2 linked regions of the Homo sapiens genome follow. The protein of the gene in region 2 interacts with the protein of the main gene of each other region in a pairwise test. Each region holds a gene or a part of one and is shown on either strand. Other genes may lie near its edges. The genes, in order: SGPL1 and PAQR5.

Region 1 (3,910 bases), on a different chromosome or scaffold from region 2:
ACCACCACCAACTTTGGTGACATATTTGAATCTGGGTGTTCATCCTACTCTGATATTCAAAAAAGCATAGAAAAAGGTCTGATTTCTGCTCATCACCAGCCCAGGATAGGGTTCAGGTGTGCTCTGACCACTGCCAATTCAGGAAGGCGGCACCATGGCCAAAAGCTCCCAGATTATTTGGAAACCATGTTTTCTTCCTAGTCCATGGTAACAAGAAAAAGCCAATGGAAGCATCATTCCAAACAATAATCTCCAAAGATGGTGGCAACCAAGTGTCAAATGGGGACTGCAGGCACAGAAGAGACCACCCCAAACCCTGCCTGGGTGGACGAAGCAGGTATGCTAGAATAGTCCTGTCCTGCAGAATAGGGAACGGCAGCTTGGTCGATCTGTGCCCTGGAAAAAGAAAATGAGTTGCAATAGAAGTGACTCTAAGACAGACAATGAACCTACTCTTAAGAGAGACAGGGCCAGGCACGGTGGCTCACGCCTGTAATCCCAGCACTTTGGGAGGCTGAGGCGGGGGGGCGGGTATCACCTGAGGTCAGGAGTTCAAGACCAGCCTGGCCAACACGGTGAACCCGTCTCTACTGAAAAAGAAAATTGAAAAATTAGCCAGGCGTGGTGGTGGGTGCCGGTAATCCCAGCTACTCGGGAGGCTGAGGCAGAAGAATCGCTTGAACCCAGTGGGTGGAGGTTGCAGTGAGCTGAGATCATGCCACTGCACTCCAGACTGGGCAAAAGAGCAAAATTCCATCTCAAAAAAAAAAAAAAAAAAAAAAAAGAGAGAGAAGGCTGAAAAAGCCTCCTGCTTAGAGTATACCTCACACCCAGCTGAGGAAACATCTGTTATGTAAACGCCTCCTGCCTGAGATAACAAAGAAGCTCTAGCTATCTCATAAACTGTACCCCAGCTTCTCTAAAGAATCAGGACAGGTCAGAGCTACCACACAATGTTTAAGTAAAGTTGAAAGCTAGAGAGTTTAGAAAAGGAAATGGTTAAAACAATTCCTAGGGTAACATTTATAACAAGGGCAAAATCATTATGTAATGGAATTCTCTGGGGTCTTCAAATTAAAAACCACAAAAGGAAGATAAGAGGAAGAACAAGAATCCTGAGGCTCAAGCTGTCTCATGGTCTATCTTGAGTTGTGCTCTATGGAGCAAGACCAGATGTCAAAGTTGTGCACGGCCTGTTCCATATCCCAAGAACCTTCTGAAGGCTGGAATCCCCTTGAGACTAGAAAGGGTCCAAGTTCAGTGGGGTTTTGGAGAACCATTCATCTGGCTGCCCTGGGTGACAGTGTCGGTGCTGTACAAGCTGTCCAAGAAGACTGAGGACAATTCTGCAACCATATTCCTGTCAACAGTTGTCTGGGCCATGCCATAGATGGCACCCTACAAATCCAAAGAAAGAGACATTATTAGTGAGGCCAGGTCCAAAAGCAAGAATAAAACTGCAGCAATGAGCCCCTTCTCCCCGAGTCCTAGCTTCGCATGTGCACTGCCCTACCCCATTTCCACCTAAGGCATCCCATCATTCTATCAGAAAAACAGCTGGCATAGTCAATTTTTCACAGGGACTTTCCAGTCTGCCTTTCTGCATAAAGGGACTAGCCTAAGAAAATTCCAGAAAAAACATGTTTACTATCTTTCCTGTGACAAAATTTTCTTTTCAAATGGACACTACCACCAGCTGCTTTTATACAGAAGTCTCTAACTTACAAGGTACTTTATAGTGTATCTCATTTGAGACTTCAGCAACCCTAAGGGGTGGGTGATGCAGAGATCATCAGCTCCAGTCAACAAATAAAAGATGTCTGTGGCAAAGGGGCAGAGGCAGGAACAGACTCCGGGTCATATGATTCCTTCAAACTCTCCACCAACACCTAAATTTCCAAGAGAAGAAAAAAAACTCCAAGTGTCCCTACCATTCCTGTGGTCTTCGCTTTAGGATTCTTCATGATTTGAGTGACAGATTCTCGAATGTCCTTTAGGAATTGTATAGCTACTCGTTTCCGGGCGTGTAGTAATGTGATGCAGAAATGAATACTAGGAAAGAAGAGACAGAGAGAGATGAACCTTGAAGAAAGAAAAAATGTTCTAAAATGATGCAGCCCCAAATACGGGAATTTCCTGGTTGCCCTTTCACAATATTTCTGACAAGTGTAGTCATCCAAGTTGTTCCTAGTCCTGGGAATCTCGGCTCTCTCATGCTTGGGGTGTCAGGCATGGGCTGGCCTCAGAGCTTCTCGGCATGACTGAGAACCATGCTAAGAGGATGAACAGTGTTGGCTGCTTTGTCCCACCCATCCCCTCACAAATTCCACCACCATTCCTTCAACCACGTCACCATCAATGAGACACTTTTATCTTAGATAATCAGCCCCCATGTGCTCTCATGGGGACAGGGCCACATGGCTGGGGTCTTAAAGGACTTCAGGGCACAGAAGAAATTCTACCTCGCCCTGGAGGAATTTAGTGGGGTTTACTGGAATTGTGAAGAGGGAAAAAGATAGTCCAGATGGGACTGGCAATGCACCAACGTGTGGAAGGCTAAGCTGTACACAGAGGACATGAACAGACCTGTACTCAGTTGGAGTGGTGCATTTACTCAAAGGCATCATGGAAGATTAGGTTAGAAAAGTCTAATAAAGAAGGCAGTAGCAGGCCTGAATGATTAGAGACCCCCAGGAAGATCTTGAACTAAATATTAGCCAGGTAACAAGTATTTTATAAGAGCAATTTGATGGCTGTGTACAAGATGGATTGGAGAGTAGAAAGGCTAGAGACTGAGAGAAAAACCTCATGACCAACCACTGGTCTAGGAGGCTGTCACCTAATTCTGCCAGAGTTTAAAGCTAATGGTCTTGTTCTTTGTATCTAATAATTCCAGGTGGCAAGAGAGAAATCCTTTATATACTACAGTTGCTACTAACGTGCTAGCCTCTAGCAGTCAAACTCTATACTTCAGGTTACTGTACCACCCAAGTTCTTCCAAAATCATGGAGCAAAATAAGGGAAAGAGGCTTCTTCAAGCTTACCTGGGTGGGAACTGCAACTGGTTCAAGTTCCACCCCTTAGCAGTCATCAGGTTTGATAGTCGGTAGATGTCAAAATCACGGGATCCCAGAGCAATGACTGACAATTGGGGATTCCCAAAAACAAAGATGCCTTTGATATTTTCCAGTCTTAAAACAAAAAAATAAATGAAGGAAGAAAAAGTAAATTCAGTCACATACAATCCCCTGGTCACTATCTCTTTAATCATTCAAAGTCTTCCTTATAATGAATGCAATCTAACCCTTTGGGCTTTAGTCTTCTCATCTTCAAAAAAGAAGAGGGCTACACTGGATCAGTGGTTCTTACTGAGATCAGAATCATAGATGGAACAATAAAAATGGAATTCCAAGGCCCAAACCCCATCTAGATCTAATGACTCAATCACTGACTTCGAACCTGTCTACCCAACTCCCAATTATATTCCCCTAGATGCTTCTGAGGCATGAAAGATGTACTAAAAAAATTTCTGGAAAAGTAATCTGCCCATCTCCACAGTTCTAAAAAGTCATATGTAATCCCTAAAGCAAGAAATGGTATAGCAGGTCTTAATAAATGGCCCTATCAGAGCTATAGGAGGACCTTTTATATATATCTAATTTTTATTTATTTGTTTGCTTATTTATTTGAGACAGGGTCTTGCTCTGTCACCCAGGCTAGAGTGCAGTGGTGTGATCATAGCTCACTGTAACCTCAAATTCCTGGGCTGTTCAAGCAGTCCTCTTGCCTTAAGCCTCCTGTGTAGCTGGGACCAAAGGTGCACACCACCACATGTGGCTAATTTTTATTTTTATTTATTTTTTATTTTTGAGATGGAGTTTCGTTCTTGTTGCCCAGGCTTGAGTGCAAT
Region 2 (3,910 bases):
GAGTGTTGAACACAATACTCTAAATGCATCTCCATGTGGTCTAAGTACCCCCCTCCCCGGCCCCTCCCTGCCCTTCCCCCTCCTCTGATCATCCTGTGTGCTCACCATCCACAATCCCCTCTCCTGGCTCCACATCATTCTCCAAAGGGTTCATGTTCAATCATTCAGTTAGACTTTAAACTCCCTAAGAGCAGAGGAGGGTGATTTTGGCCAAGATATGCAGATCGATTCATCAGTAATCCACTGACCACCTCCATTTAGGTTGGGAGCCTCTTTATCTTCCCTCTTTAGTTTCTTCAAGGTGCACACACAGATACCTACAGCAGGCAGGAATCCAGGTGGGGCACCAGGCATCTCTGCTCACCTTGGCTGCTGGTGGTGGGGTGCCTGCCTGTGCTGTGCATGCTGCAGCTTTGGCAGGGTGGCCAATCAGTCCAGTGCCAGCCTTTGCCTCCCAGAGAATGCTTCACACCCTATTCTTCCCCCAAACCCATCACTGGCCCAGACATCAAAAGCACACATCCCTGTGCTATTCCCCTTCAAAGAGCTTCATATCTAATATCTCACTGAGTCCCCCGACTAGCCTTGGAAAGGCAAAGCAGGGATTATTAATCTCCATTTTGTAGATGGTGAGGGTCTTGTCCAAGGCTACTCTGAATTCAGCATAGAGCTGGGACTGGGCTCCACTCTTGTGTCCAGTCATTCTTGTCAAACTCTGGTCTGTGGAATATACATGCCTGCCTCTGTGTAGGCCCCAGTCTCTTTCCCTTTAAGAACTTGGGTCTGAGAGGACAAGCGCATGTCGCACGCACACACACACGCACATGCATACACACCCTTACAAGATGCACAGCCACCAAAAAGCCTAATAAAGCAAGGTGCCCAAGACCACGGTTCAGGATCCGTAAAAATGGCCGGAGATAATTGACTGCAACCTATTCACTGCAAATGGGGCAACTTGGGCCCACAAAGGGCCAGAGACTTGACCCGAGTCACAGAGTAGACTAGAGCCCAGGTCTCTGGACTCCCAGTCCTGTGCTCTCTCCACTGTGTGTGCCCTCAGCAAACAAGGCAAGGCAGGGAGGAGCAGGAGCTCAGAGAGCCTGGGGCTGAAGGGTGGGAGGAAAGAGCCTGGTGGGGGACTTCGGTCCACAGGTGTGGATGTTCCAACCTTTCTCTGGCAGGGTCGGGGTGGGGGCACCAGGTAGCTGCAACCTGTTCCTTCAGCACCTGGGAGGAGACACAGAGTCTGGTTCCCTGAAGCCAAATGTTTCTTCTTTGTCCTCTGTGTCCCTTCATCTCTTATAGCTGTGTCCACTGAGTGGCAGAGGTCCAGGCCCAGCGCCTTCCAGTCTAGGAGCCTGTGACCTGGGACAGGATCCCTGGGGAAAGGGTGAGGGCTGGCAAAGGGCCCGCCACCCTGAGCACTCCAAGAGACAGGGGTGGAACTCACTTCAAGGATTCAGGGCGGCGAGGATCCTCTCCCACCGGCGAAGCGGACACCGCGGTGGGGCTGCGAGTACCCAGTTGTTGTTTTTTTCTCCTTCCCTGTTCTCCACCCCATGCACTTTTCCGAGGGGCAAGCTCCGCAGTTCTCCCATCAAGGAGGCTCTCCAGGCTCCCTGCCGGCCTTCGGCTCCTGGGGTGGAGGTGGGCGTGGGGTACATGGGCCCTAGGAGAATGGGGTGTGAGAGACTCCCCTGGGCTTATGGCTTTGGTGGCACCTCAGGCTGTGGAATGGGGTGGCGAGTCTTTGGAAGTCACAGAGCCCAGGGTCGGTGGCACGTGATGAGGCGCAGGCCTGGCTCAGGGGGTGGTGCCCACGGCCCTCGGCTCCTCCCCCGGGGCCGCCCCGCCCCGCGCGGGAGGGGACGGGCGGGGACCGGCATGGGTAGGCGCGGCGACCCGCAGGGCCAGGTGCAGGGCCCGCGAGTCCGGGGTCGCCGCAGCCCGGGAGGAGTGTCTGGTCTCCGGCCTGCCTGTGCTGTCCCCGCGCCCTGTCCACTGGACTCCCGAGACCCTTGGAACCCAGGTAACCCGGGGCGGGACTCCCCGCCGCGCGCCGCCTCCCCACCTCCCGGTCCACGCGCACCCGCCCTCCGCGGCAGCCCCAGCCGCCCTGCGCCCGTGGAGCCCGTTGAGCCTGGGTGGCCGCTCCGAGGGCGGGTCTGGGAAAGTTTGTGCCGGGGCGGCCCTGATCCGGCGGCGGCGCGGCTCGGCCACTTTCACCGCACGCGGGGCCGGTGTGAAGGTGGGGCGGCCGCCGCCGTGCAGAAGGCTCTCTGCTGCAATCGAGGGCGGTGAGGGGAGCTGTTGCCTTCTCGCACCTTTTCTCTCACTCTCCAGGGCGTTTGCGCCGCTTATCCTTCCTCCACCGCCCCCCTCCCGCCGCCCCCACTTTAATAAAACCCTTGGATTGGGGCTGCACAGTTGGCGATTTCTTTACACCTGTGCTTCCCGCCTCCTGAGCCCAGATGTGAGCCTGGGCTGAGCAGGACCGTGTGGGTGAGGGGCGGCCCACTGCCTGCGGGGGTCGTCCCGGCCCTGTTGAAGTGGGTGCCCAGCTACAGGGAGTTCCCCCTGCTCTGTCATTGGCCTCCCCCCGGCCACAGCCCCCAGCTGGGCATCTCCTGGCTCCCCTAGCACTTCCCAAGTCCTAGTCGGATGAGCCCAGGAGAGGGGGTGGACCCCGGCCCAGCAGAACAAGAACTCAGGAGCCCGGTAACTCTTATCCGTGAGCAGAACCGGCTTCCTCCCGCTTAGGTTGGGAGGAGGGCTCAGCTTAGTGGGAGTCGGGGGTGACAACTGCCCCTTCCCACGCAGAGCCATAGAGAAGAGATGGGGAGAGGTCAGGGGATCTGAGAAGAGCTAGCAGCCAAAAAGGGACACATCCCTGATTTCATTTGAACCTAACAAACCAATGGCGAGTAGATATTAACACATGGGCAGATGAGAAGACAAGGAGGCCCAACAAAGCTCAGCCATTTGCTGGAGAAACTGGTGGGCTTTTCTCCACCACTGAGTGGCGGGTTTCCCACCGCATCCTTCCAGAGCTGCATGGTCGCTTCTGCATTCTTGCAGTGCCCTTGACTCAGCAGAGGTTTGTTTCTTTTACCCCACTCCCCACCCCCCTAGGTTCTGCCTGTGAAAGAGGTTCAGGGGAGAGGGCACCTCCAAGCAGACACAAACTCCAGTCAGTAAGGTCCTCCAAGAGCCAGCCAGAGCCTTGCTAAGCTCCCAGAACTGCAGGAGGGCAGGGACCTGCTTTGTTCCCTGCAGGGACCTGCTTTGTTCCCTGCCGTAGCAATAGTACCTGGCACACGGAAGGTGCTCTGCGAGAATGGAATGATTAGCCTGCAACAGCAAAGCTTCTTTTCCAACTGCCTTATCTCTGCCCTTGGCAAGCAGAAAGGGCACTCTGAAAAGTTGGATCAGAAAGGTGTCCAGCCCCACCACTGAGATCCCTTGGCACCCTTACCCACGTGGGGCAACATTTTCCCCTTACACCAAGAGTACATCCTTAATCCCGTATGCTTTTCTTTCTTTCTCTTTCTTTCTTTCTTTCCTTCTTTCTTTCTTTCTTTCTTTCTTTCTTTCTTTCTTTCTTTCTTTCTTTCTTTCTTTCTTTTCTTTCTTTCTTTCATTCTTTCTCTTCCTTCCTCCCTCCCTCTCTCTCTCTCTTTCTTTCTTTCTTTCTTTCTTTCTTTCTTTCTTTCTTTCTTTCATTCTTTCTCTTCCTTCCTCCCTCCCTCTCTCTCTCTCTTTCTTTCTTTCTTTCCTTCTTTCCTTCCTTCCTTCCTTCCTTCCTTTAGTTCGTTTTCTTTCTTTCTTTCTTTCTTTCTTTCTTTCTTTCTTTCTTTCTTTCTTTCTTCCTTCCTTCCTTCCTTCCTTTCTCTCTCTCTCTCTCTCT

What was found.
Region 1: the proteins of PAQR5 (region 2) and SGPL1 interact in binary tests that used the Homo sapiens proteins (3 or more experiments, as listed by UniProt).

Annotation. Positions count from the first base shown.
Region 1 is NC_000010.11:70,874,683-70,878,592, reverse strand, and holds part of SGPL1 (sphingosine-1-phosphate lyase 1), read right to left. Parts: intron 3,192-3,910; coding exon 3,045-3,191; intron 2,053-3,044; coding exon 1,932-2,052; intron 1,399-1,931; coding exon 1,258-1,398; 3' UTR 1-1,257. UniProt on the Homo sapiens protein: Cleaves phosphorylated sphingoid bases (PSBs), such as sphingosine-1-phosphate, into fatty aldehydes and phosphoethanolamine. Elevates stress-induced ceramide production and apoptosis.
Region 2 is NC_000015.10:69,297,025-69,300,934, forward strand, and holds the start of PAQR5 (membrane progestin receptor gamma), read left to right. Parts: upstream 1-1,887; 5' UTR 1,888-2,032; intron 2,033-3,910. UniProt on the Homo sapiens protein: Plasma membrane progesterone (P4) receptor coupled to G proteins. Seems to act through a G(i) mediated pathway. May be involved in oocyte maturation.